4 linked regions of the Homo sapiens genome follow. The protein of the gene in region 2 interacts with the protein of the main gene of each other region in a biochemical or structural test. Each region holds a gene or a part of one and is shown on either strand. Other genes may lie near its edges.

Evidence for each region.
Region 1: the proteins of BPTF (region 2) and SMAD3 form a complex in vitro, tested with the Homo sapiens proteins (one study listed by BioGRID).
Region 3: the proteins of BPTF (region 2) and MAZ form a complex in vitro, tested with the Homo sapiens proteins (one study listed by BioGRID).
Region 4: the proteins of BPTF (region 2) and NFE2L2 form a complex in vitro, tested with the Homo sapiens proteins (one study listed by BioGRID).

What each region holds. Positions count from the first base shown.
Region 1 is NC_000015.10:67,187,602-67,194,601, forward strand, and holds part of SMAD3 (mothers against decapentaplegic homolog 3), read left to right. Parts: intron 1-2,811; coding exon 2,812-2,935; 3' UTR 2,936-7,000. UniProt on the Homo sapiens protein: Receptor-regulated SMAD (R-SMAD) that is an intracellular signal transducer and transcriptional modulator activated by TGF-beta (transforming growth factor) and activin type 1 receptor kinases.
Region 2 is NC_000017.11:67,905,477-67,912,510, forward strand, and holds part of BPTF (nucleosome-remodeling factor subunit BPTF), read left to right. Parts: intron 1-4,105; coding exon 4,106-4,285; intron 4,286-5,400; coding exon 5,401-7,034. UniProt on the Homo sapiens protein: Regulatory subunit of the ATP-dependent NURF-1 and NURF-5 ISWI chromatin remodeling complexes, which form ordered nucleosome arrays on chromatin and facilitate access to DNA during DNA-templated processes such as DNA replication, transcription, and repair.
Region 3 is NC_000016.10:29,802,466-29,809,536, forward strand, and holds the start of MAZ (myc-associated zinc finger protein), read left to right. Parts: upstream 1-4,063; 5' UTR 4,064-4,236; coding exon 4,237-4,428; intron 4,429-4,512; coding exon 4,513-5,363; intron 5,364-5,764; coding exon 5,765-5,828; intron 5,829-5,965; coding exon of another isoform or gene 5,966-6,064; exon of another isoform or gene 6,065-6,104; coding exon 6,105-6,276; exon of another isoform or gene 6,277-6,668; intron 6,669-7,071. Other genes in the region: kinesin-like protein KIF22, read left to right, coding at 304-472, 984-1,143, 1,533-1,600, 2,349-2,561, 2,650-2,709, 2,798-2,845. UniProt on the Homo sapiens protein: Transcriptional regulator, potentially with dual roles in transcription initiation and termination.
Region 4 is NC_000002.12:177,254,694-177,261,727, reverse strand, and holds part of NFE2L2 (nuclear factor erythroid 2-related factor 2), read left to right. Parts: intron 1-5,717; exon of another isoform or gene 5,718-5,783; intron 5,784-7,034.

The sequences.
Region 1 (7,000 bases), on a different chromosome or scaffold from region 2:
AGCCCTAGCGTCAAGAGCAGAAAGACCAAAGATCAGAGAGAGGCCAAGGCCTGGCAGGCAGGAGGGGCCGGGCCAACAGCAGATGATGAGGAATTGCAGAACGATGTTTGCTGGCACCGAACAGCTGTAGGCACTGTAAACACACGCTCCATCTTATCCTCATCCCAGCCCTGGGTGGGGATGCCAGCATCATCCGTACAGATGAGAGAACTAAGGCCCAGGGAGGGAGAGTGACTTGCCTGCAGTCACACTGGTAGAAGAGCTGTGTCTAGAACTCTGCCCTCTTGGCTTCTTCCTTAGTCTCATTTTAGGCAGATGGCTTTAGGATGACCCTCTTCAGGAAGTTAGGTCTTCAGCTCATTGTTCCTCTCCTCCTCTGTTGCTCCATTTCTGACTCAGGGACCCTGGTGATGCTGAGGAGCCCAGGATATTAAAACTGAGAGTCCGGGAAGGGAGGAGGAGATTTGGGTAGTTATAAAGGAACAAAATTTTCTCGCTGAGAAATGACTTTTTTAGAGTCCTACATACTGGTTTCTTTTTCTTTTTCTTTTTTTTTTTTTTTTTTTTTGAGATGGAGTCTCACTCTGTCATCCAAGCTGAAGTGAGTGGCACCATCTTGGCTTACTGCAATCTCTGCCTCCAGGACGTGCCTCAGCCTCCCAAGTAGCTGGGACTACAGGTGCGTGCTACCACGCCTGGCTAATTTTTTGTATTTTAGTAGAGAGGGGGTTTCACCATGTTGCCCAGGGTGGTCTCGAACTCCTGAGCTCAGGTGACCCACCTGCCTCAGCCTCCCAAAGTGCTGGGATTACAGGCGTGAACCACCATGCCCGGCCCTAGATACTGGTTTAAACATGGCCCTGATATAGTCAGGTCTACCTGGTCTGCTTGGTTGAATCTCTCAGGCCATCCTGCTTTGGGTTTAGAGAATCCAGTCCCTTTTCTTTCCACTCACGGACCAAAGTTTGCGGAGAGGCAGGGCTGTGTGCCCCCGCCTTCTGCTCCACACTCCCCCCTGCCAGCCGCCAGCTCCTGCGGCAGATGCAGAGGTGCCCACATGTCAGCTAGAGCCAGCGCCTTGCAAGCTACTCTCCCTTTCTCTTCATTTTTCCAGATGTTTGGAATCCATTTTGTTTTGCAGTCATGCTGCACTCAGGCCAAACCCATTTCAATATTGGCCTTGGGCCACCGTTTGTAATGAAATCCAGATGAGCATGACTTATGGAAAGTCAGATTCTCATTAGAGGATTTCATCCTGTAAAATCCTCCTCTTCCACTTACCGTATTTTAGCTGCTGTTCTTCTGTGTCTGCCCCAGGGTGTCAGGGAACACAGCCCCTTGGTTTCTTGGGTGTCTCTGAAATCCAGGAGTGACCAGTGGAGCAATCAAAGTGGTCAGACCTCAAAAGAACTTACAACTATGTTATGGCCTGAAGAGATCAGCCCAGGCCCAAAGGTCTAGCCAGAGAAATGTTTTAAGCAATCTTTTAGCCCTGGCTTAGCTCATTTAGGGAACAGGAGTGAAAGGTTAGAAAATTAATCTTTTTTTAGTGAAGAAGGGAAATATTTAAAGATGGACTGCAGTGGAAAAGAGTAAGGGGATGTCCATTTGCTCTTCTTATACCAGACTGTAGTCTGGAGGGCCACACTCAGGTACCCTCGCTCGTGCAGACACCCCAGGGTCTGTCTGCAGGCCCATTTCTCAACCTCCCTGCTACACAAGCAAAGTAGAGGCCAAGCAAGGAGGGTGGTGCCTTCAAGACAGCAACACTGTTCCTGGTGTGGCATTGCAGCTCTCCCGCTCCAAGTGCTAGGAAGAGGCTCTTTGGTGGCAGAGCCTTTCCCTGGGGACACTATCACCACGCGGGATGTCCTGCCAGCACACCCAGTCCTCTGTGGCCCACCGCGTCACCGCTGCCTGGCAGCACTGCACAGCAGCCTGACGGGCGGGCGCGGCCCCTTCCCAGAACAGCCTTGTCGTCCTCCTGCCTCTTGGGCCAAGGAGAGTAAGGTTTCAGCTCTTCTCTCTGTGAGGTGGCTGAAAGCAGGGCCCAGGGCCCACACCTCTCACCTCCAGCTGGCACCAGCGACTCCAGCCTCAGCAGATAGCCTTTGCTCAGTGGAGGCCTTTGGGAGCCTGCCTGCAAGCTGCGTCATCAACCAGCCTGAATTTAGACAAAGTGCTTTGGGGAAAAGAAACGTGTGGTGTGCCTTGTTTTTTTCCAGTAATTGTTCCATGGCTCGTTCTGCTTGTAAGATTTTCCAAAATAAGGCCGTAGATGAGAATTATATCAGCACATTGGGAACCGAAGGCATGCGGACACTGTTGGCGCTTTGTAAAAAACACCCCTCAATCAGACAGACACACGTCATCGTCGCCTGCTGGGGCTGGGCCCAGATTTCGAGATAGGGGAGCGGCACGTGCCCGTTTGGTACAGATGGGAGCCAGGAAGCCCTTTGCTCAGGATGGAGGTCTCCTCTATTAGGGGGCCTGTTACAGTAACTGGTGGGCCTCTGGGGTACCCTGCAATTGACTTTACATATTTAACTCTTTGCCATTGACTTTACATGTTTAACTCTTTAAAGTCGACTTCCTTCCCCCTCAAGAGAACTTAATTTACTCAAAGTCCTCCCTGGGTAGAGGAGTTTGGCCGGGTAGTTTCAGCAAGTTACTGGTACCGCTTCTAGGACAGCGTCTAACAGCATCTTTGGGAAGATGACTGTCACCAAAGCAGAAAAAGCTTTCTGACTTGTGTAACCCCCTGGAGATTTTTTAAGTCCCCCACCCCACCCCTTTCCCTATTTCTTACAGGAGACAGACTGTGACCAGTACCCCCTGCTGGATTGAGCTGCACCTGAATGGGCCTTTGCAGTGGCTTGACAAGGTCCTCACCCAGATGGGCTCCCCAAGCATCCGCTGTTCCAGTGTGTCTTAGAGACATCAAGTATGGTAGGGGAGGGCAGGCTTGGGGAAAATGGCCATGCAGGAGGTGGAGAAAATTGGAACTCTACTCAACCCATTGTTGTCAAGGAAGAAGAAATCTTTCTCCCTCAACTGAAGGGGTGCACCCACCTGTTTTCTGAAACACACGAGCAAACCCAGAGGTGGATGTTATGAACAGCTGTGTCTGCCAAACACATTTACCCTTTGGCCCCACTTTGAAGGGCAAGAAATGGCGTCTGCTCTGGTGGCTTAAGTGAGCAGAACAGGTAGTATTACACCACCGGCCCCCTCCCCCCAGACTCTTTTTTTGAGTGACAGCTTTCTGGGATGTCACAGTCCAACCAGAAACACCCCTCTGTCTAGGACTGCAGTGTGGAGTTCACCTTGGAAGGGCGTTCTAGGTAGGAAGAGCCCGCAGGGCCATGCAGACCTCATGCCCAGCTCTCTGACGCTTGTGACAGTGCCTCTTCCAGTGAACATTCCCAGCCCAGCCCCGCCCCGCCCCGCCCCACCACTCCAGCAGACCTTGCCCCTTGTGAGCTGGATAGACTTGGGATGGGGAGGGAGGGAGTTTTGTCTGTCTCCCTCCCCTCTCAGAACATACTGATTGGGAGGTGCGTGTTCAGCAGAACCTGCACACAGGACAGCGGGAAAAATCGATGAGCGCCACCTCTTTAAAAACTCACTTACGTTTGTCCTTTTTCACTTTGAAAAGTTGGAAGGATCTGCTGAGGCCCAGTGCATATGCAATGTATAGTGTCTATTATCACATTAATCTCAAAGAGATTCGAATGACGGTAAGTGTTCTCATGAAGCAGGAGGCCCTTGTCGTGGGATGGCATTTGGTCTCAGGCAGCACCACACTGGGTGCGTCTCCAGTCATCTGTAAGAGCTTGCTCCAGATTCTGATGCATACGGCTATATTGGTTTATGTAGTCAGTTGCATTCATTAAATCAACTTTATCATATGCTCTTTTAAATGTTTGGTTTATATATTTTCTTTAAAAATCCTGGGCTGGCACATTGACTGGGAAACCTGAGTGAGACCCAGCAACTGCTTCTCTCCCTTCTCTCTCCTGAGGTGAAGCTTTTCCAGGTTTTGTTGAAGAGATACCTGCCAGCACTTCTGCAAGCTGAAATTTACAGAAGCAAATTCACCAGAAGGGAAACATCTCAGGCCAACATAGGCAAATGAAAAGGGCTATTAAAATATTTTTACACCTTTGAAAATTGCAGGCTTGGTACAAAGAGGTCTGTCATCTTCCCCCTGGGATATAAGATGATCTAGCTCCCGGTAGAGGATCACCGGTGACAACTATAGCAGTTGTATTGTGTAACAAGTACTGCTCCCAGCAGCAATTAGGGAGAAAACTAGTCTAAATTATTTCAACTGGAAAAAAGAAAAAAGAGTCCTCTTCTTTTCCCAGCCTTTTGCAGAACACAGTAGACAGAACTGCCACCTTCAATTGGTACTTTATTCTTTGCTGCTGTTTTTGTATAAAATGACCTATCCCACGTTTTTGCATGAATTTATAGCAGGAAAAATCAAGGGATTTCCTATGGAAGTCCTGCTTTATTCCAGGTGAAGGGAAGGAAGTGTATATACTTTTGGCAAGTCATACAGCTCAAATGTGATGAGATTTCTGATGTTAGAGGGAGATGGAGAGGCTTCCTGATGCCTCATCTGCAGGGTCCTGTGCCTCTGAAGTTCTAGCCATGAGGTTTCCAGGTAGGACAGCTGCTCCCCAAGCCTCCTGAGGACACAGGAAGAGACGGAAGGAGCACCTTGACAGACTTGTGTGAGTCTTCTCGAAGGAGGGTTGACTCAGAACCCAGAGACAATACAAAACCCCTCACTTCCTCTGAGAGGGCCAAATGCTGTGAGTCTGAAGTATGTGCCTGGTGTGAAATGATCTATGGCCTGTTTCTTACACAGGAAGCCCCCTGAACCTCCTGTACATGTGTTCATGTTCCCAGCCAGCTCTGAGACCCAGGAACCAAATATTCCATTTTGGCTTCTGCTAGAGCAGTCATGGTTCCTCTCCTAAAAGCCATGGGCAGCAGTTTCCGAGGGCCTGCATGATCCACCTGCTGCACGATCCTATGAGGGCTTCCTGTGGCACACAGCCCTCTGGGTGCTTGGGAACTAGCTTCAGGCACAGCCTGATTCTGGTGATCCAGTGATCTATGGAAGTCGTGTCTTACTCCAGGTGAAGGGGGAAAAAAAAAGCCTATACTTTGGCAGGTTATGAACTTTGAATGTGATGAAATGACACGTTTGGCTGCATTTGGATGGTGTCTTAGAACCCTCATTGCTCAGACCTGAAGGCTACTTCTAGGAGCATGAAGTTTGAGTTTTGTGTTTTTCCAAAGGATACTTCCTTGGCCCTTTTTCTTTATTGACTAGACCACCAGAGGAGGATGTGTGGGATTGTAGGCAAACCCACCTGTGGCATCACTGAAAATAAATTTGATCATACCTAAGAGGTTAGGAAATGGTGCCATTCCCACCTTAGAGTGCTACATAGGTGCTTTGGGCGTATGTAACATTAGTGTCCTTCCTTGAAGCCACAAGCTAGTTTTCTTAGTTTTAAAATCCTGTTGTATGAATGGCATTTGTATATTAAAACACTTTTTTAAAGGACAGTTGAAAAGGGCAAGAGGAAACCAGGGCAGTTCTAGAGGAGTGCTGGTGACTGGATAGCAGTTTTAAGTGGCGTTCACCTAGTCAACACGACCGCGTGTGTTGCCCCTGCCCTGGGCTCCCCGCCATGACATCTTCACCTTGCAGCTTGTGCTGAGACTGACCCAAGTGCAGCTAGCACTGGGACACAGATCCTTGTCTTCAGCACCTTCCAAGGAGCCAACTTTTATTCCCTTTCCTCTCTCCCCTCCCCACCTCGCTTCTTCCCAATTTAGTAACTTAGATGCTTCCAGCACATACGTAGGTAGCTACCCCAGCCGGTTTGGATTACAGGCCTGTGCTGGAACATCATCTCAGTTGGCCACCTTCCTGGCAGGCTGTAGACCTGACATTTTGAGACAAGCCTAGAGGAGTCAGGAGCAGGGACTTTGACTCTTAGGAAGAGCACACATGAGGGCAAGGCTGCTGGCAGACGTCTCCATTGTCCTTATGTTGTCTGTGTTGTATTTTTTTTTTTTTATTGACCATGGTGATTATTTTTTTAAACCATCGTTAATATACTGAAGTGAGCTATAGCACATATCATGTGCTTAGTTTGTTTATTTTTCTCCATCTCCCCTTGGCTTCCTAGAGTTTGGACATATTCCAGGCTAAATGCTTTTACTCAAGACTACAGAAAGGTTTGAAGTAGTGTGTGCATGGCATGCACGTATGTAAGTAATCTGGGGAAGAAGCAAAGATCTGTTTCATTCTTAGCCTCAGGCCTCATGAGGGTCTCCACAGGGCCGGAGCTCAGGTTACACCACTCCTTCGTCCTTACAGGAGATGTAGGGAGAAGAATCTGCAGGCTGCTTGTAGGACTGTTCACCAAGGGGGATACCAGCAGCAAGAGAGTGCACCCGTTTAGCCCTGGACCCTGTTTCTTACTGTGTGACTTGGCTAGAGTTGGGAGTTCCCCCAAAATAAACGTGTCCCCATTTTACCAGAACCAAACCTCAACACAGCGAAGCTGTACTGTCTTTGTGTGGCAAAGATGTTCCCTTGTAGGCCCCTTTCAGGTAACCGTCTTCACAATGTATTTTCATCACAGTTTAAGGAGCATCAGCCGCTTCTCAAGTGGGTAGGGAAAGCAGAAAAACGTACGCAAGAGGACATGGATCCAAAATGATGATGAAGCATCTCCCATGGGGAGGTGATGGTGGGGAGATGATGGGCTAAACAGGCAACTTTTCAAAAACACAGCTATCATAGAAAAGAAACTTGCCTCATGTAAACTGGATTGAGAAATTCTCAGTGATTCTGCAATGGATTTTTTTTTAATGCAGAAGTAATGTATACTCTAGTATTCTGGTGTTTTTATATTTATGTAATAATTTCTTAAAACCATTCAGACAGATAACTATTTAATTTTTT
Region 2 (7,034 bases):
CAGGAGGATCACTTGAGGCCAGGAGTTCAAGGCCAGCCTGGGCAACATAGCAAGACCCCATCTCTACAAAAACGTTTTAAAAATTAGCCAGGTGTAGTGCCACATGGCTGTGGTCCCAGCTACTTGGGGGTCTGAGGCAGGAGGATTGCTTGAGGCCAGGAGTTTGAGGCTGCAGTAAGCTATAATTGTGCTGTTGCACTCGAGCCTGGATGACAGAACCAGACTCAATCTCTTAAAAAAAAAAATCTTAATTCAGTACTAATTCACTGAGGAGTCATGTATCTAGTAACCTTAGCATTGTTGCAAGTAAGAGAAAACCAGAAAGAAAGTGATAGAGGCTTCCAAAACACTGTCACATAAATGAGGTTTTTCAGTGAGAACATTTGGACACAGGATGGGGAACATCACACACCGGGGCCTGTCGTGGGGTTGGGGGAGGTTGGGGGATAGCATTAGGAGATATACCTAATGTAAATGTAGAGTTAATGGGTGCAGCACACCAACATGGCACATGTATACATATGTCACAAACCTGCACGTTGTGCGCACGTACCCTAGAACTAAAGTATAATTTAAAAAAATAATGAGGTTTTTTTTGGGGGGAGGGGTTGTTTTTGTTTTTTTGAAATGGAGTCTTGCTCTGTCACCAGGCTGGAGTGCAGTGGCGTATCTGGCCTCACTGCAACCTCCGCCTCCTGGGTTCAAGCAGTTCTCCTGCCTCAGCCTCCCGAGTAGCTGGGACTAAAAGTGCACACCACCATGCCCAGCTAATTTTTGTATTTTTTATAGAGACAGGGTTTCACTATGTTGGCCAGGGTGGTCTCAATCTCTTGACTTTGTGATCTGCCCGCCTCGGCCTCCCAAAGTGCTGGGATTACAGGTGTGACCACTGCGCCTGGCCTATAAATAAGCTATTAATTGAGTTTTTACAACTGGCTAATGAGCTTTAGTATTTAGAATCACCGAACTCTATAGAGATGAACTGCTCTTTTAAAAGATCATGTGTTTTTAAACTCAAGTTCAATGAGCCGATTATTTCACGAGGGTGCCAGGTGACATAGTGAAGACCACATATGCACAGAGTGATAGAACGCTGGCAGGTCCCAAGCCCTTTTCTGTGATTCTTCTCTTACCTCACCACTATCCTGCTCTTGACAGGATTACGGTTTCTTTGCACTCTCTTCTCTTTCTTCAGCCAGACCTTTCTGGAAGAAATCATTCATTTAAATTAAAAATAGATATATTTTTTATATCTATTTTCTCACACCAGTATCTTGCTCGCGACAGAATTATGATTTCTTTGCACTCTCTTCCCTTCAGCCAGACCTTTCTGGAAGAAATCATTCATTTAAATAAAAAATGGATATACCTTGCTAGGTCCTTGGGATATTTAGGTTCAAGTGAAGAAGGTAAAGAATAGGAAAATGCCTTTAAGTCCAGGTGCCATGGCTCACACCTGTGATGGGATGCCAAGGCAGGGGAGGATCAGTTGAGCCCAGGAGTTCAAGAAACAGCCTGGGCAACATGGCAAATCCCCATCTCTACAAAAAATGCAAAAATTAGCCAGACATATTGGTACACACCTGTATTCCCAGTTACTCAGGAGGCTGATGAGGGAGGATCGTTTGAGCCCAGGAGTTCAAGGCTGCAGTGAGCTGAGATGAACCCACTGTGCTCCAGCCTGGGTGACAGAGCAAGACACTGTCTCCAAAAAAAAAAAAAAAACCTTTAAGTCCCAAGAATATTCATCTAGACAGTAGTTCTGTTTTGGGAGGCTTGATTTTTTTTTTTTTTTTGTAATTATTATGGGAAATTTAAAACTACACAAATACAAAGAGAATAATGAACTCATTCAGCTTCAACAATTATCAAAGTTTATCACTTTTTTTTTTTTTTTGAGATGGAGTTTTGCTCTGTCACCCAGGCTAGAGTGCAGTGGCATGGTCTCAGCTCACTGCAACCTCCACCTCCCGGGTTCAATCAATTCTCTTGCCTCAGCCTCCCAAATAGCTGGGATTACAAGTACCCGCCACCACGCCGAGCTAATTTTTGTATTTTTAATAGAGACGGGGTTTTGCCATGTTGGCCAGGCTGATCTCGAACTCCTGACTTCAAGTGATCTGCCTGCCTCGGCCTCCCAAAGTGCTGGGATTACAGGTGTGAGTCACTGCTCCCAGCCAAATTTTATCACTCTTTGTTTAGTTGTCACTGACCACTTTTTTTAATCCTGCAGTGTTTTAAAATAAATCCCAGAAATCATGTTTCACCAGAAGTTCAATATGTATCTCTACGTAGACATTTTTCCATAACCATCATGTCATTATCACACTCAACAAATTAACCGTAATTAACAAATTAATAATCTGATTCTCAGTCCATATTCCACTTGCCCTGGTTGTCTTAGAGATACCTTTTTACTGTAAGCAGTAAACAAGGCCACAGATTGCCTTTGATCCTTTTTTTCAGTCTTTTATTCTGTTATATAAACTTCAAGGAGTCCAAGAACCATTGAAATAGATTACAAAAGTTTATATACATACTTTTTTCCTTGGTAGAGGATCATAGCATTTATCCATTTCTAATAGGGTTCTGTGACACAAAGTATGTTAGAAACCACTGATATGGGCTTTCTGGAATGATCAAATAGATTGTGATAATCCTTCATACACGAGTTTTCTTTCATTTTATTTTTTTATGTGTGTGACAGAGTCTTGCTCTGTCAGCCAGGCTGGAGTGCAGTGGCACCATCTCAGCTCGCTGCAAACTCTGCCTCCCAGGTTGAAGCAATTCTCCTGCTTCAGTCTCCCAAGTAGCTGGGACTACAGGCTCGTACCACCATGACTGGCTAATTTTTGTATTTTTAGTAGAGATGGGGTTTCACCTTGTTGGGCTGGTGTTGAACTCCTGGCCTCAAGTGATCTGCCTGCCTCAGCCTCCCAAAGTGCTGGGATTACAGGCATGAGCCACCACACTCACCCAAATTTTATCACATTTGTTTCAGTTGTCACTGACCACTTTTTTTTTTTTTTTTTTTGAGATGGAGTCTCACTCTGTCACCCAGGCTGGAGTGCAGTGGTACGATCTCAGTTCACTGCAGCCTCCAACTCCCAGGTTCCAGCGATTCTCCTGCCTCAGCCTCCTGAGTAGGGATCACAGTTGCACGCCACCATGCCTGGCTAATTTTTGTATTTTTAATAGAGGCGGGGTTTCACCATGTTGGCTAGGCTGGTCTTGAACTCCTTGTCCTCAAGTGATCCGCCCACCTTGGCATCCCAAAGTGCTGGGATTACAGGCATAAGCCACTACACCCATCCAAATTTTATCACTCTTGTTTCAGTTGTCACTGACAATTTTTTTTTTTTTTTTTTTTTTTGTTGACACGGAGTCTCACTCTGTCGCCCAGGCTGGAGTGCAGTGGCGTGACCTCAGCTCACTGCGACCTCCGCCTCCTGGGTTCAAGCAATTCTCCTGCCTCAGCCTCCTGAGTAGCTGAGATCACAGGTGTGCACCACCACACCCAGATAATTTTTGTATTTTTAGTAGAGATCGGGTTTCACCATGTTAGCCAGGCTGGTCTCAAACTCCTGACCTCAGGTGATGCACCCACCTCGGCCCCTCAAAGTGCTGGGATTACAGGCATGAGCCACCGCACCAGCCTATAGTATTAATGTTTATCTTGTAGCTGACTATGTTACTGAATCACAGTTTTTTGTTTTTTTTTTAATTTTTGGACACAGAGCCTCACTCTGTCACCCAGGCTGGAGTGCAGTGGCATGAGCCACCGCACCAGGTCCCCCCCCCCCTTTTTTTTTTTATCCTGCAGTGTTTTAAAACAAATTTCCTAAATCATATTTCACCAAAAATGTTCACAAAGTTTTCTGAAATGTCTGAAGTTCAGGCATTCCTTCTGTGTTTTAGGTCAGCCAGGCATATAGGATTATATGGTACCTTATACTCAATAAGACCTTTGTCTTTTTTTTTTTTTTAAATGAAAAAATGAAACATAACTTGCTGGAAATTACTTGTTTATTTTCACTAAACTTGACATATTAAAGTGCTAATACTCTGGAAATAACGTAAATTATCGTTACATGGTTCTTTTTAGCCAAAAATAATATGGATGAAAATATGGATGAGTCAGATAAAAGAAAATGTTCACGAAGTCCAAAAAAAATAAAAATAGAGCCTGATTCTGAAAAAGATGAGGTAAAAGGTTCAGATGCTGCAAAAGGAGCAGACCAAAATGAAATGGATATCTCAAAGATTACTGAGAAGAAGGACCAAGGTAAGGAGAGTCAGCTGTGGAGGGCAGCCTGGGGGTGATAAGAATGCACTGGATCAGGGTCCCACCACAGGAAAGGTACTGCGTTGTGTTTTCTTGATAACAGCTTTATCAAAACATAATTGATATCCCATACAATTCACCCAATTAAAGTGTAAATTCAGTGGCTTTTAGTATATTCACAAAGTTCAACCATTATTACATCAATCTTAGAACATTTTCATAACCTTGAAAAGAAGCCTCATTCATACCCATTAGCAGTTACTTCCCAACCCCTCCCGAAAGTGCCACCAGCTTAGTGGTCTACTTTCTGTCTCTCTGGATTTGCCTATTTTGGACAGTCCATAGAAATGGAATCAGACAATATGTGGTCCTTTGTGGCTGGCTTCATCCACTTAGCATGGTTTTAAGGTTCATCCATGTTGTAGCATTTATCAGTACTTTCTTTTTGTTTCTGAATAATACTCTGTATGGATATGCCACATTTTGTTATCCATTCATCAGTTGATGGACATTGGGCTGTTTCCTCTTTTGGCTATACGAATAATGCTGCTATGAACATTCATGCAGAAGTTTTTTGTGGCCATGCGTTTTCACTTCTCTTGGCGATATACCTAGGAATGGAATTACTGGATCATATGGTAACTCTGTTTAACCTTTTGAGGAACTACATTGTCTTTTGTAACAAGTCATTTTTAAAAAAAAACTAGATAAGCTAGATAATGCATGTGGCTAGAGATACTTTAAAAAAATATTTTTGGCTGGGCGTGGTGGCTCATGCCTGTAATCTCAGCACTTTGGGAGGCTGAGGTGGGCGGATCACCTGAAGTCAGGAGTTCAAGACCAGCCTGGCCAACATTGCGAAACCCTGTCTCTACTGAAAATTCAAAAATAAGCCAGGCATGGTGGCACATGCCTATAATCCCAGCTACTTGGGAGGCTGAAGCATGAGAATTGCTTGAACCCAGGAGGCGGAGGTTGCAGTGAACTGAGATCATGCCACTGCACTCCAGCCTGGGCAACAGAGTGAGACTCCATCTCAAAAAAAAAAATATATATATATAAATTCCTCCTTTCAGAGTAAAAATTACATTTATATAAATGTCTTTGTTTCACAGATGTGAAGGAGCTCTTAGATTCTGACAGTGATAAACCCTGCAAGGAAGAACCAATGGAAGTAGACGATGACATGAAAACAGAGTCACATGTAAATTGTCAGGAGAGTTCTCAAGTAGATGTGGTCAATGTTAGTGAGGGTTTTCATCTAAGGACTAGTTACAAAAAGAAAACAAAATCATCCAAACTAGATGGACTTCTTGAAAGGAGAATTAAACAGTTTACACTGGAAGAAAAACAGCGACTCGAAAAAATCAAGTTGGAGGGTGGAATTAAGGGTATAGGAAAGACTTCTACAAATTCTTCAAAAAATCTCTCTGAATCACCAGTAATAACGAAAGCAAAAGAAGGGTGTCAGAGTGACTCGATGAGACAAGAACAGAGCCCAAATGCAAATAATGATCAACCTGAGGACTTGATTCAGGGATGTTCAGAAAGTGATTCCTCAGTTCTTAGAATGAGTGATCCTAGTCATACCACAAACAAACTTTATCCAAAAGATCGAGTGTTAGATGATGTCTCCATTCGGAGCCCAGAAACAAAATGTCCGAAACAAAATTCCATTGAAAATGACATAGAAGAAAAAGTCTCTGACCTTGCCAGTAGAGGCCAGGAACCCAGTAAGAGTAAAACAAAAGGAAATGATTTTTTCATCGATGACTCTAAACTAGCCAGTGCAGATGATATTGGTACTTTGATCTGTAAGAACAAAAAACCGCTCATACAGGAGGAAAGTGACACCATTGTTTCTTCTTCCAAGAGTGCTTTACATTCATCAGTGCCTAAAAGTACCAATGACAGAGATGCCACACCTCTGTCAAGAGCAATGGACTTTGAAGGAAAACTGGGATGTGACTCTGAATCTAATAGCACTTTGGAAAATAGTTCTGATACCGTGTCTATTCAGGATAGCAGTGAAGAAGATATGATTGTTCAGAATAGCAATGAAAGCATTTCTGAACAGTTCAGAACTCGAGAACAAGATGTTGAAGTCTTGGAGCCGTTAAAGTGTGAGTTGGTTTCTGGTGAGTCCACTGGAAACTGTGAGGACAGGCTGCCGGTCAAGGGGACTGAAGCAAATGGTAAAAAACCAAGTCAGCAGAAGAAATTAGAGGAGAGACCAGTTAATAAATGTAGTGATCAAATAAAGCTAAAAAATACCACTGACAAAAAGAATAATGAAAATCGAGAGTCTGAAAAGAAAGGACAGAGAACAAGTACATTTCAAATAAATGGAAAAGATAATAAACCCAAAATATATTTGAAAGGTGAATGCTTGAAAGAAATTTCTGAGAGTAGAGTAGTAAGTGGTAATGTTGAACCAAAGGTTAATAATATAAATAAAATAATCCCTGAGAATGATATTAAATCATTGACTGTTAAAGAATCTGCTATAAGGCCATTCATTAATGGTGATGTCATCATGGAAGATTTTAATGAAAGAAACAGCTCCGAAACAAAATCGCATTTGCTGAGTTCTTCAGATGCTGAAGGTAACTACCGAGATAGCCTTGAGACCCTGCCATCAACCAAAGAGTCTGACAGTACACAGACGACCACACCCTCAGCATCTTGTCCAGAAAGCAATTCAGTTAATCAGGTAGAAGATATGGAAATAGAAACCTCAGAAGTTAAG
Region 3 (7,071 bases), on a different chromosome or scaffold from region 2:
TGTCCTGGCTGTCACCTTATTATGGTCTCTTGATTTCCTCAGTAGACAGTGCCTCCAGGGCAGGGCAGTGTCTTAGGTCTCTCATACCTGGCACTCAAGTGTTCGCCTGATTTCCTGGCATCCCCGAGCAGTCACTTCACCTGATGAAGACACTGCACCCAGAGAAACTGGATGCCTAGCAAGTTAACATTAGGTTCTGGAGCTACAGGATATACCAAGTTAAGGTGTGGTGAGGGGAGTCCTGCTGCTGTAGGTGGTGATGAGGGAGGAGGTAGGTGGGGAGCAACTTCTTTTTCTGCTCAGCCCCCTACAGAAGCTAAGCAGCATGGACCCGGCCATGCTGGAGCGCCTCCTCAGCTTGGACCGTCTGCTTGCCTCCCAGGGGAGCCAGGGGGCCCCTCTGTTGAGTACCCCAAAGCGAGAGCGGATGGTGCTAATGAAGACAGTGGAAGAGAAGGACCTAGAGATTGAGGTACGTGTTTTAGGGATGTGGGAGCTGGATTCCTATTGGCCTTGAGAAGCAATCCTTGGATCTTCAGACAGGGAAGGACACTCAGGCTGGACTAGAGTCCAGTTTTCTCCCAATACCGGAAGTTCTCCAGCTTCTGCTTGAATGTCCTTAACATGGCTGAACTTTGACAGACAATTGAGACCAGATGTGAGGGTGAGAAGAAAAAGTTCAAAGTAAAAGCAACAAATGTTAAACATTACATTTCCTAAAGCCCAGCTCAATTAATTGAGGACTGTGCTTGAAAAGCCTTTCCCTTCAATATTTGCAGAGGCTTGTTCCACCTCTGGGTAGCCCCCTAATCACAGAAAGCCCTTAATTATGTTAGGCTCCACCTGTCTCCTGGTAACCTCCCACTGGTCCTAGCCCTGCCCTCTGGGGGCTCAGAGCCTTGCATACTCACCCTGGTAACCCACTCCCTTCAGGCTGCCCTGGAGTTGGGTCTGGATCACATCTCCCTGATCCTTTCCAACAGAGGCTTAAGACGAAGCAAAAAGAACTGGAGGCCAAGATGTTGGCCCAGAAGGCTGAGGAAAAGGAGAACCATTGTCCCACAATGCTCCGGCCCCTTTCACATCGCACAGTCACAGGGGCAAAGCCCCTGAAAAAGGCTGTGGTGATGCCCCTACAGCTAAGTAAGTTTGACTCCAGGGGCTGGGGGGCCAAGGCAGCTGAGATCCTATAAGGGAGGAAGTGTTAGGAGCAGCTGTCTCCATGTCATTCATATTCTCCCACCACATACCAGTCCCAGGGAGGGGTGAGGAGGCTCTGAGGCAGTGCTGGGGGTGCTCTGCCCTCGGGTGTTTAGGACAGTGGGATGGACAAACGAGTAGAGGATTGAAGATAATGCAAGACTGACTGAAATTCCTTTAAATGCGGGTATAAAAAAGGTCATGTGGAAACACAACAGGTTAACTCTGGATGGAGGGGAGCTGGGGAATCAGAAATGGAAGAATCGAAGGGCTACCAGGGAGGGTGAAAAGTACCCTTTGCCCTGACTCCAATTCTCGATTCCTACTTTCAGTTCAGGAGCAGGCAGCATCCCCAAATGCCGAGATCCACATCCTGAAGAATAAAGGCCGGAAGAGAAAGGTGAAAGTAGCTGGGGGCTTAGGCTACACCTGGAGCCCAGAAGTAAGGGGGAGTAGGCTCTAGGGGGAGGAGCGTTGGCCTTGGGGTTAAACGAACTGGATGATGGCCGCCAGCTACTAACAGACCTCAACTTGCTTACCCCTGGAATGTGGTGATGGATGGTTCCTTGCAGGGCATTTAGGGTGGAAGGCAGTGATGTGGATGTACCTCGCAGAGCGGATGTTCCACTGTGTAGCCTGGCTTCTACCCTCTACAAGCTTAAGAGGGAAAACTTAGGGAACTATGACCTAAGCAGTCAAGCAAGAAACCACACATATGCACATACCCAGAATCGAACACCACTAGAACTACCCAAAAACTGAGATGGTTGGGGGAGGTATCATTTATTCATATTACTTTCTCCCATGTACTTTTTGAAAGACAGCTTATTCTTTCCCTTTTAGAGATGAGGGACCAGATTTAAGAGCTTATTTTGTGCTTTACATTCATTAACTCACTTGATCTCCACAGCAACTCCATGAGAAGGGTGCTAATATTACCACTGGGTACTGAGTAGTACCTCTCTTTCACTAGTTGCATAATAAGAATTAACCCAGAGAGTGACCTGAGGGCGGGATTTTGGACACACTTGACAAGAGAGGAAGAGGCTGGAGCGCAGGAGGTAGCTGGTGCTGGGCTCCTAGTCTTGGCAGAGGAGCCCAAAGCACTTGGCTGCCCTGCGTGTCACTCATCTCCCTTTGCCTCCCAGCTGGAGTCCCTGGATGCCCTAGAGCCTGAGGAGAAGGCTGAGGACTGCTGGGAGCTACAGATCAGCCCGGAGCTACTGGCTCATGGGCGCCAAAAAATACTGGATCTGCTGAACGAAGGCTCAGCCCGAGATCTCCGCAGTCTTCAGCGCATTGGCCCGAAGAAGGCCCAGCTAATCGTGGGCTGGCGGGAGCTCCACGGCCCCTTCAGCCAGGTAGCAGCCCACTGGACTGGGGGAGGGCGGGGGCGGGGGAGACCGGGTACCCCCGAGACCCTGTCCCCTATCGATCCTGTCCCGCCAGGTGGAGGACCTGGAACGCGTGGAGGGCATAACGGGGAAACAGATGGAGTCCTTCCTGAAGGTGAAGTCACGGCCCTGCCCCTCCTCTGCCTGTCCTGCGCCCCGCGCCCCTCTCTAACGTCGCTGTCTCCCTCCCTCCTGTGTTGCAGGCAAACATCCTGGGTCTCGCCGCCGGCCAGCGCTGTGGCGCCTCCTGACCGTCGTCTCCTCACTCCGCCTTTTCAAATTTTTGTATAACCCCGTGTTGTGTAAATACAGTTTTTGCTCCGGTGCTTCCGCCTGATTTTTGGGGCTGCGGGGGCGGGACCGGGGTGTGACCGCCTCGGGGTGGGCCGCGAGCAAGGCAGGCGACTCCACTGGGCGCCATCTTCGGGGAACGACTCAGCGCAGGATTGTAAATACACCGCTGGGGTGGGGCGGGGAGGACGGTGGCCTGCAGGACGCAAAAAGCGGAAGCCGAAGCATGAGGCCTGCGACCGTTAGGCGGGCGCGCGCTCAGGGATTAGCCCCGCCCCGTCCGTGCCCCCGGCGCGCGCGCTCCCCCATTCTCCCGCTCGGCAACGACGGCGGCCTTGTGCGCGTGCGCGCGAAATAACGGCCGCTGGCGGAGGGAGGGGGAGTGGAATCGTTGGCGGGGGGAAGAGGAGAGAAGCCGCCCTGTCTCCCGCGCGCCCACCACCTGCGCCATCGTCAGCCAATCAGCAGCCGTCTCAGGGGTCTCGCGCTCGGGGCGACTCGGGCTGCTGGGTGGCTCCCCCGTCCCTCCTCCCGCCAGAGTCCCTCTCGCGCCTGCCCCTCCCGCTGGCCACGCGCGCGCTCGCGCTAGCGCTCGCGCCCGCTCCAGCCTCTTGTGTGTCCTCGCGCCCCCCGCCCGCCCTCCCCGCGCGTAGTGTGCTCCGCTTCCCCCACCCTCCACCTCCCCCCTCCTGCCCGCCCCGCGCGCCTCCTCCCGGGTTCCCCCTCCCCCACCGCCGCCGCCTCCTCCTCCCGCCCCAGGGTGAGCGCGAGCCACCTCCCTCCCTCCCTCCGCCATGGATCCCAGCAACTGGAGCAGCTTCATCTTCCAGGTAACAACTCCCTCCCCCCGCCCCCACCCCCCTGCCCACACCCCCTCCTGCCCGCCCTCCCTCCCGTCCCACCCCCCCTCCGCGCGCCCGGTGCGCGCGCAGCTGTCCCCCTCCCTCCCTCGCGCCCTCCCCCGCCCTCCCCGAGGCGCCGGCTGGGCGCGCGCGCGGCGGGGGCCGAGGCTGCTCCCTCGCTCCCCCCACCCCGCCCCGCCAGGCTCCAACCGCCGCCGCCGCCGCCGCCGCCGCCCGGGCCCCCGCCCCCGGCCCCGGCCCCGCGGGGCCTCCCGCCCCCACCCAGGGGGCGTCGCCGCCGCCGTCGCCGCGGCGCTCCGCGGCCCGCAAGGCGCCCTCTTTTCCTCCCTCCCGCCGGCCGGGGTGCGCGGGCGGCGGGGCGGCCCGCGGGCCATGCGTTCGGCGCGGCCCAGCCCGGCCGGCCGGGGGCGGCGCCCCGAGCCCGGGCCCCGCGCGGCCCGCGCCCCCGGCCCCCGCTGAGCCCCGGGGGCCCCGCTGCGGCCGAGGCCATGTTCCCGGTGTTTCCTTGCACGCTGCTGGCCCCCCCCTTCCCCGTGCTGGGCCTGGACTCCCGGGGGGTGGGCGGCCTCATGAACTCCTTCCCGCCACCTCAGGGTCACGCCCAGAACCCCCTGCAGGTCGGGGCTGAGCTCCAGTCCCGCTTCTTTGCCTCCCAGGGCTGCGCCCAGAGTCCATTCCAGGTGAGTAGGGCCGGCCGCGGCGGCCCGGGCTGGGGGGGGACGCCCGCCCGCACCCGCGGCCCACTCGGCGCCTTGTCTCCGCAGGCCGCGCCGGCGCCCCCGCCCACGCCCCAGGCCCCGGCGGCCGAGCCCCTCCAGGTGGACTTGCTCCCGGTGCTCGCCGCCGCCCAGGAGTCCGCCGCGGCTGCTGCGGCCGCTGCCGCCGCTGCTGCCGCCGTCGCTGCCGCGCCCCCGGCCCCTGCCGCCGCCTCTACGGTGGACACAGCGGCCCTGAAGCAGCCTCCGGCGCCCCCTCCGCCACCCCCGCCAGTGTCGGCGCCCGCGGCCGAGGCCGCGCCCCCCGCCTCCGCCGCCACTATCGCCGCGGCGGCGGCCACCGCCGTCGTAGCCCCAACCTCGACGGTCGCCGTGGCCCCGGTCGCGTCTGCCTTGGAGAAGAAGACAAAGAGCAAGGGGCCCTACATCTGCGCTCTGTGCGCCAAGGAGTTCAAGAACGGCTACAATCTCCGGAGGCACGAAGCCATCCACACGGGAGCCAAGGCCGGCCGGGTCCCCTCGGGTGCTATGAAGATGCCGACCATGGTGCCCCTGAGCCTCCTGAGCGTGCCCCAGCTGAGCGGAGCCGGCGGGGGAGGGGGAGAGGCGGGTGCCGGCGGCGGCGCTGCCGCAGTGGCCGCCGGTGGCGTGGTGACCACGACCGCCTCGGGGAAGCGCATCCGGAAGAACCATGCCTGCGAGATGTGTGGCAAGGCCTTCCGCGACGTCTACCACCTGAACCGACACAAGCTGTCGCACTCGGACGAGAAGCCCTACCAGTGCCCGGTGTGCCAGCAGCGCTTCAAGCGCAAGGACCGCATGAGCTACCACGTGCGCTCACATGACGGCGCTGTGCACAAGCCCTACAACTGCTCCCACTGTGGCAAGAGCTTCTCCCGGTGTGCACGGGGCCTCGGCCGCCCGCTAGGCCGTGGGGAGGGAGGGACGCGACGGAGGTGGCCTGGCCGTGGCTGGCGGGGAGGGAGGCGGCTGCTGAGGCTGGGGAAGGGGAGCCACTCCCAGGGCGGAGGGAGGAAGCCTCTCCCGGTTACCAGGGAGCAAGGGGTGGTCCTTTGTCGAGGAGGTGGGCCTTGGGGTTGACGGAAGCTTCGCGTGGGAGGAGGCGGCGGCGGCGGCAGCGGCTGCTGGGCTCCAGGGGAGGGATTTCCTGCTTAAGTGTCGCTGTGACGGCCTGGGCTCCGGGAGGAGGCGCAGGGATCCTCGGAAAGGCCTGTGGTGCGGTTTGGTGGATTTGGGGCGCACCACCTCCGCCCTAACCCCAACCCCAACGTGTCCCCAGGCCGGATCACCTCAACAGTCACGTCAGACAAGTGCACTCAACAGAACGGCCCTTCAAATGTGAGGTAGGAAGCCCGCCTCCTCCTGTCTTGGTTTTCATGATTTTGATCCTCATGGTAGCTGTCTGAGTCAGTCTCTCAGACCCCCTTTTTCTCTCTCTTCTTTTTGCCTTTTTGCTCCATTTTCTCATCCCTTCTTCAAGGCCTCATCATGTCACTCCCATTTCCTACAGATCAAAGATCCCCAAGGCTCTGATTCCTTTAATCTCTTGCTCCCCCCTCCCCAGCCCACCAAGCTTTAACTCTCCTGTGACACCCCCCACGCCCCTCCCCCCTCCTCAGAAATGTGAGGCAGCTTTCGCCACGAAGGATCGGCTGCGGGCGCACACAGTACGACACGAGGAGAAAGTGCCATGTCACGTGTGTGGCAAGATGCTGAGCTCGGCTTATATTTCGGACCACATGAAGGTGCACAGCCAGGGTCCTCACCATGTCTGTGAGCTCTGCAACAAAGGTACATGCCGAGGGCTGCCGGGAGGGCCAGGGGCAGAGGGTGGGCGCCTGGCCAGACGCCTTGCCACGGATACGGGTTAAGGGTGCTGTAGCCAAGAGCTCGTGGCGTCTAGATTCCTACAAGAGGTCAAGGGAGCAGCGGGGGGACACCTGAATGAACATCATTAGACTCTAAGAAGTCCTGGTTGGAAGAGATGATCTGCCAGAGAGGTTGAACCTCCTGGTAATGTGTGGGGAAAGCGGGAGTGGAACTTGGCTGCTCTGGGGAAGGAGTAGTCAAGAAAGCCAGTTCCAGGGGTCACAAGGCAAGGTTTCCGCTGCGCAGCCACAAGGTCTTGTCTCCAGCTCCTGGGGCAGGTGGAGTACACGGGCCGGGCTTTACCAGCACGCACCCTGCACGGGTAGCAGAGAAAGCTGCCTTCAGTCAGACTCACCGGTTAACTGGGTTGAGACCGCGGGGCACTGGAGGGAAGGGGACACAGCCGTCTCTGCTGAGGGTCAACCCTGCAAGTGGCTAGGAGTCAGTGTCTCGTCATCCTGGGAGAGGTCTCCCGGCCATGGAGAATGAGTTCTGTAGGTACCAAGGCTGAGAAGCGGGCACCACACAAGCCAGGCCCCAGGCTCAGGGAGGGGCTGTGTCTACCAGCCCCAACAGAGCAGTTGGCCCCAGGCTACCAAGGATACCGTGGGAGGAGGACAGGGCCATCTGAGGAGGGCATCCCCCGCCTAGGAGATCAGCCCCGTCTCTGGGGTCTCCGCCTGGCTGACCCCCGCCCCATCCCAATCCACCCCCCAA
Region 4 (7,034 bases), on a different chromosome or scaffold from region 2:
TGGGTGCCAGACATAATTGCTTCACATGCATAATTTTACAGTAACCTCACGGGAAATATTATTATCCCTGGTTTCCAGGTTGGGAAAACCAGGCATAATAGTTAGATCAGGCATTAGGTTAGGAAAGGTTAGGAGAGAGGCATAGAGAAAGGCCAGGACCTGCTAAGGTGACCATACTATTGAGTGGCCAAGGTAGCATTCAAACAGGTTTGACTCCTGGGGGCTTCTAATCACCACTTCCAGACTGTACCAAAACTCCTTAAACTCTAAATAGGAAGAAAAGCTCACACTTTAAAAAGTGGGTAAGTTGAGATTTGCCTATTCTGGGGGAAGGAGAGGCCGGAATATAAAAGATTAATGTCTGCAGCTTTTCCATTTAGCAAGACATTTAATCACTGTATGTGACGTGGGGAGGTGGACCTTGTTAAATACAGGGAGAGTGAATACAATCCATCAATGGTACCCACTGTGGTCCTTTTAAGGAAGACACAGAGGCCTCGGTGGATTCAATTTAGAAAGGCAGGACTGTTTTTTGTTTTTTGTTTTTTTTTTTTTTTGAGATGAAGTCTTGTTCTGTTGCCCAGGCTGGAATGCAGTGGCCTGATCTTGGCTCACTGCAGCCTCTACTTCCCGGGTTCAAGTGATTCTCCTGCTTCAGCCTCCCGAGTAGCTGGGATTATAGGCACCCACTGCCCGGCTAATTTTTGTATTTTTAGTAGAGATGGGGTTTTACCATGTTGGCCAGGCTGGGCTGGTCTCGAACTCCTGACCTCAGGTGATCCACCCGCCTCGGCCTCCCAAAGTGTTGGGATTACAGGTGTGAGCCACTGCGCCAGTCTGTTTCTTAATATAATAATAGTTTTAAAAATTTCTGATGTTTGGCAATGTCCAAGATTCTGCCTCACATTTTTCAGAAACTGCCTTTTTTCTTAATTAAATCTCTTAGCTACTGGAGTCTTTGCCTTTGTTTGCCTTGCTACTTGGTACATTTCTTCTGTTCCATTGGCTCTTTTTGTTTTGAAGTAGTGCTCAAAAATAAGTTTGGTAGTAAGAATATGGTGAAGAGTGTGACAGACAGGGTTAAACCAGGCTGAAGGAAAGAGAGCAGAATGGGGAAAATTTGAGTTGAAAACAGCTAGCAGAAAGCTGATGGCGCAAATTCAACCCTAATCTCATGTTTTGGCACTTCTGAACTATAGCAAGCATAAGGGCTCAACTCTTATCTAGTTGAAGCTTACTTGGGTCTTTGAGAATAGTACATCTCAAAATTAAACACTTTCTTAGTCCTTATTGTTAAGTTGTTTTTGGAATTATTGTCTTATTTGTCTGAATTAAGTGTGCTGCAGGACTTATAGGATCTGATGGATGATTTGCCTAAAAGTTGGTCCAGGTCAACCTCAGGGCATTTAAATGCTTGGTCCAGCCACTTTCTGAAAGTTGACTGAAATATGTTGCACAGCAGGGTAGAGGAGGACAAGTTTACTAGATGTCATTTTTAACCTGCTTGTCTTCATCTCTGACTGTAGAAATGTATATTCATTATAAGTTTGCCACAAATAGAGAATAGAGTTTATTCTTTGATCATCTAATTTCTAGGAGCTATTGAAATTTCACTGCTACCTGCTTTTAAATAAGCGCCAACAAACATTTATTAAAAGGGCTTTAAGGTATAGGCCAAGATTTATTCAATTGCTAATGGTATGTTTTCTGTAAATGAAAGCAAAAATATGTTCAAGTGTATAATATTAAATATTAACATTCAGAAACTTGGAGAAATACAGATGGCTTTTTTTTTTGAGACGCAGTCTTGCTCTGTCGCCCAGGCTGGAGTGCAGTGGCATGATCTCCGCTCACTGCAAGCTCCACCTCCCGGGTTCACGCCATTCTCCTGCCCCAGCCTCCCGAGTAGCTGGTACTACAGGCACCCGCCACCACGCCTGGCTAATTTTTTGTATTTTTAGTAGAGATGGGGTTTCACTGTGTTAGCCAGGATGATCTCGATCTCCTGACCTCATGATCCGCCTGCCTCAGCCTCCCAAAGTGCTGGGATTACAAGCTTAAGCCACCGCGCCTGGCCTAGATGGATTTCTTGTACCAGACTATACCCTAGACATGAAAACAAGACTGTTAAACAAAATCCTGTGCTACCTAAAGTTTGAGCCTTCTGTGTGTCAGTTTCTGCCATAATAAATAACTCTTAACTATGATTATTAAGTATATTAAGAACTTTGAGTAGGGGAGGCACGTTTAATCATTCGTTTTTACGGCATATGTACTATAATACCTGTGTGTTGCAAATCCTGGTATTTAAAAGTCTTTTTGTGTATTTGAGCATGTAAGTTTATTTGGTCCAAACTGCTGGTACTAGTAAAGACAAGTCCAGGGCATAAGTAGGACTTACAGCACCAAGTTCGTCTTTTTTTTTTGAGACAGAGTCTCAGTCGGTCACCCAGGCTGGAGTGCATTGGTACAGTCTGGGCTCACTGCACCCTCCACCTCCCGAGTTCAAGCGATTCTCCTGCCTCAGCCTCCCAAGTAGCTGGGATTACAAGTGTGTGCCGCCACGCCCGGTTAATTTTTGTATTTTTAGTAGAGATGGAGTTTCACTATGTTGGCCAGGCTGATCCCGACCTCAGGTGATGTGCCCACCTTGGTCTCCGAAAGTGCTGGGATTATAGGCGTGAGCCACTGCGCCTGACCTCCAAGTCCATCTTTCAAAGGCTCTGTTGATAATTGACTCTTGAGAGTCATTACAGTCCATCAACAGCCTGTATTCTGAATATTTGTTTTTAATTCTAAGACAATGCTAAATAGCCATTCCAAATAAGGTGAGAACTGAGACTTTAGGGCCTGTATTATCAGCTGTACACTGACAAGCTCTGAACTCTATTGCTTTTTCAAATCAGAGAAGAAAAATGAGTAAGAAAAGAAAAATATGGATCACTTAGGCTTTGATGCCTCCTCTGAGTTTATAGTGTTTACCTTCTGTATTACTTAGGTGATCCTCTCTAATGGCATTTTAAATCTCTGTTGATACTTGTCTTACTTATGTATCTGTTTTTTTTTCCTCTATAGTAGATAGAATTTATAGATATATATGTATTTTAAAGTAAGATACAATTTACGTACCTTACAATTTACCCATTTAATCTAATTCAGGGTTATGCAACCCTATGAATTTAGTAGTTTATTCATAGAGTTATGCAACCATCACTGTAATCAATTTTCAACACCCTCAAAAGAAACCCCATATCCATTAGCAGTCACTTCCCATTTCCCCTCAACTCTCCTGGCCCCTGGTAACTACTCAGTTATTTTCTGTACCTATGGATTTGCCTATTCTGGACATATCATGTAAATGGAATAGCATGTAAATGGAATCATACAGTATTTATCCTTCTGTTGCTGGCTTCTTTCACAGCAATATGTTTTCAAGGTTTAAAAATGTTGCAACGTATATCAATAGCGTCATTCCTTTTTATGGCTGCATACTATTCCATTGTATGGCTATACCACATTTTATTTATCCAGTTGATGATCATTTGAGTTGTTTCCACTTTTTATGTTTCTGTTTGTTTCTTACAGCAGTGGTTCTCAAACTGTTGTATATTAGACTCACCATCAGTATTTAAAAAACTAATGCCCAGGCCATATCCCTCATGAAATCAAAATCTCTGGGGGTGGGGCCCAGGCATCACTATTTTTTAAAGATTCTGAGGGGATTCTAACGAGCAGTCAGGTTTGAGAGCCAGTGCCCTAGGGCAGCAGTCCACAACCTTTTTAGCACCAGGGACTAGTTTTGTGGAAGACAGTTTTTCCATAGAAGGAGGTAGAGGATGGTTTCAGGATGAAACTGTTCCACCTCAGATCATCAGGCATTAGATTGTCCTAAGGAGCTGGCAACCTACATCCCTTGCATACTCAGTTTACAACAGGGTTCCGGCTTCTCTGATAAACTAATGCTGCTGCTAATCTGACAGGAGGTGGAGCTCAGGCGGGAATGCTCGCCTACTGCTCACCTCCTGCTGTGCGGCCTGGTTCCTAATGGGCCACTGACCCCTCCGCAGCCAGCAGGTGGGGACCCCTGCCCTAGGGGACCCACCTCAGTGCTTGGTATCCATTGAAGTATATAGTGATTTAGAAAATCTGGTTAGGATGTCTTATTTAAATCATGAAAGCAAGTGCTTTTGTCTTTGATCATTGCCCTTCACAGCCTTACAGTTAACACCTACATTCAGGAACTGTGTTTCAAAGTGCCTGGCGAGTGTTTGAAACTCACTAAATATATATAACCTGGGCTCATTAAACCCCTCCAGAAGATTTGGGTAACTTTGTTATGAAAGGGCTTCCCTGAAGTGGGTCAGCAGGATTGCTCTGTGTTTTTTCAGGAATGTGGCCTGTGATAACTTGCAATCTAGATTATTTGGAAATAGCACTGAGAGAAGCCAGTGAGGACAGAATGCTCAGAAGCTTGGGATAGGTGTTGAACATCCTGGAGGCCAGGACGGAACACTGTCTTACTCTAGGAAGCTGTGTTCCTGGGCCTCATTATCTTCCTCCGTTAAAAACAAAAGACTTAAATCTCCACAGCAGCTTTCAGCAACTTCATTTTTTGGTTCTCTGTATCTGCCTGATAAAGTCCCACTTTGTAGTGGCTCCCACTTATATTTACCTGAATGGCTTTTGGGTTGACATATTTGGAAACTGGGGCTAACTTCCAAACTGTTGGCAACTTGTGTGTGGGTGTGCGTGCCACAGCACAGCAGTCCCACTTGAGAGACTTGATGGTGTGGTGGTGGTTGGGGGGCTTCTGAAGCTGGCTTAGCCCCAGCCCTATACACCCACCCCACAGATGGTGGGAACAAGCCCAGAAGAGAGTGGGTAACTCTGTCCACTGTGGCCTCCACAGCCAAGGTTGCCAGGCAGAGCTCGCAAGGCCCAATTCCAGTCTTGTCTTTGACCGTTGCCCCTTTGTGTTGGGGGGGTGTATTTAGTCACCTTTCTGGAAGCATGCTTTTCTAATTCTAGTCATCAGTAGTTTGTTGCTTTAAGATTTTGAAAATGGTATCCTGTTATTTTACTTAGGAGTTTCGTATTGAATGGTGTACATAATGTGATTCAAGTACCTCAAAACAGAAGGACTTCAGTTAAGATTTAGGCTCTATGCAACATACACTTCTTGCATTTTCTCATTCAATGTCCTTTCCTTTTTTTTTTTTTTTTTTTTTGCAAGAATGTAGCTGACATTCAGAGTAGATTAGTACCTTCAATGTCTGTGTGAAAGAAATGACCTTAATATGAGGACAATATTGACTGTGTATTTAGGGGGCCCACTGTTAAGGCATATAGAATTTTGCTTTATTTCAGACCTGACAATCTCTTGTCTGCTCTGCTTCCGCATAAAATTATAATACTGCACATGGATGTAAAACCCAACCTATTCCCTGCCTGAGGGACTAGAATAGAGGGAAGAATGACTATAGTTCTTTGTTGCCTTTTGTGAAGGTAACAGGCACAGAGGTATGATGCATGATGGAATTATATACCTCTTCTTGAGGTGTTTGAGGGCTGACTAAGGACCTGTACTTTTTTTTTGGTTTGTTTTGCAGTACTGGGGCCAGGGAGCCTTGCTGTTGTGTCTAGAGAGTGTTGAAGAACCATGAATATTTCGCAAAAAGAAAATAATTTTTTTAACCATTAAAATTCCTGGTAGTGACTTCCTCTGGCAAGTAAAAAACTCTCATTTTCCTTAAAAAATGAGAGTTTTTTACTTGCAATAGGAAAACTTGCCAATTTTTCAAGTTATTTTTATTCTTGATGATTCTCAATGAGACATAATTAAAATACACATAGAAAAAACAACCGTAGGCCAGGTGCAGTGGCTCACACCAGTAATCCCAACACTTTGGGAAGTCAAGGTGGGAGGATCACTAGAGACCAGGAGTTTGAGATGAGCCTGGGCAACATATTGAGACACTGTCTCCTCAAAAAATTAAAAAAATTAGCTGGATCCAGTGGTGCACACCTGCAATTGTAGCTATTTGGGAGGCTAAGGTGGAAGAATAGCTTGAGCCCAGGAGTTTGAAGGTGCAGTGAGCCATAATCATGCCACTGTACTCCAGCCCAGGCAACAGAGTAAGATCATGTCTCAATGAAAAAAAGAAAAATCAACCCTAGTGGACTGGAACAGGGCTGGTTTACTTTGTGTCAGCTGCAGTGCCCCCACTCGCCAACCCACATGTTCTTCTCCTGCTGGTTCCCAAGCAGAGACCAGAACCAAGAATGAGAATCATCCTGTGGGTGCAGGTTGTATCTTATCCTCCAGAGACAGCACTTCACCCTCTGTTAGAAACTTCTTTACCACACTGCCTGTTTGGTGAAATCCTTAGGGCAGTGACTTCCAAACTGTGATCCAGGGGCCACCCTTGGTGGGAGGATCAGGAAGGAGGGGGAATGTATCTTAAGAAAAGTTGGGGGAAGCTCATATCTCTTCTCGTTGATCCTGAGAAGTAAAGTCTTTCCTCCTCAGAGAGATGCGGGTAGACATGACTCGCCTAGATAGAAGCTCATTCATCTCCCTCCCTTCTGCCTCTGCAGGACTCTTGGAAGTCTGGGTCCCCGGGAGTATGCGGCTCTTGCTCTGTGCTACAGGTTTCCAAAGTTCACTTGATAACAGTACAATTGTGCTGTAAATTGTGCAGTAATGGAGACTGAGGAAACAATTAGTCTTTCATCTTCATTCATGTTACCAGCTCACTTCCTATGGTGTGAAAAGAGCCAGACTTTGGAGTTAGGAGACATCTGAATACAGACAGAACTGGCAAGATTATGGGGAAGAAAAGGGAAAAGTAATGAATATTTTCAAAGAGGTTAAGCCATTTGGCCAGGACAACACTGCTTGCAGGTAGCAGAACTGGGATTTTGACTGTCCATAATCCCTATTCTCTGCTTGTTTTACTCCTTCCCTCTCTTCTTTCTTTTTTCATTGTCTAATGACCTACAGACATTCTGTCAGCTGCTAAAGAATGAGGGAC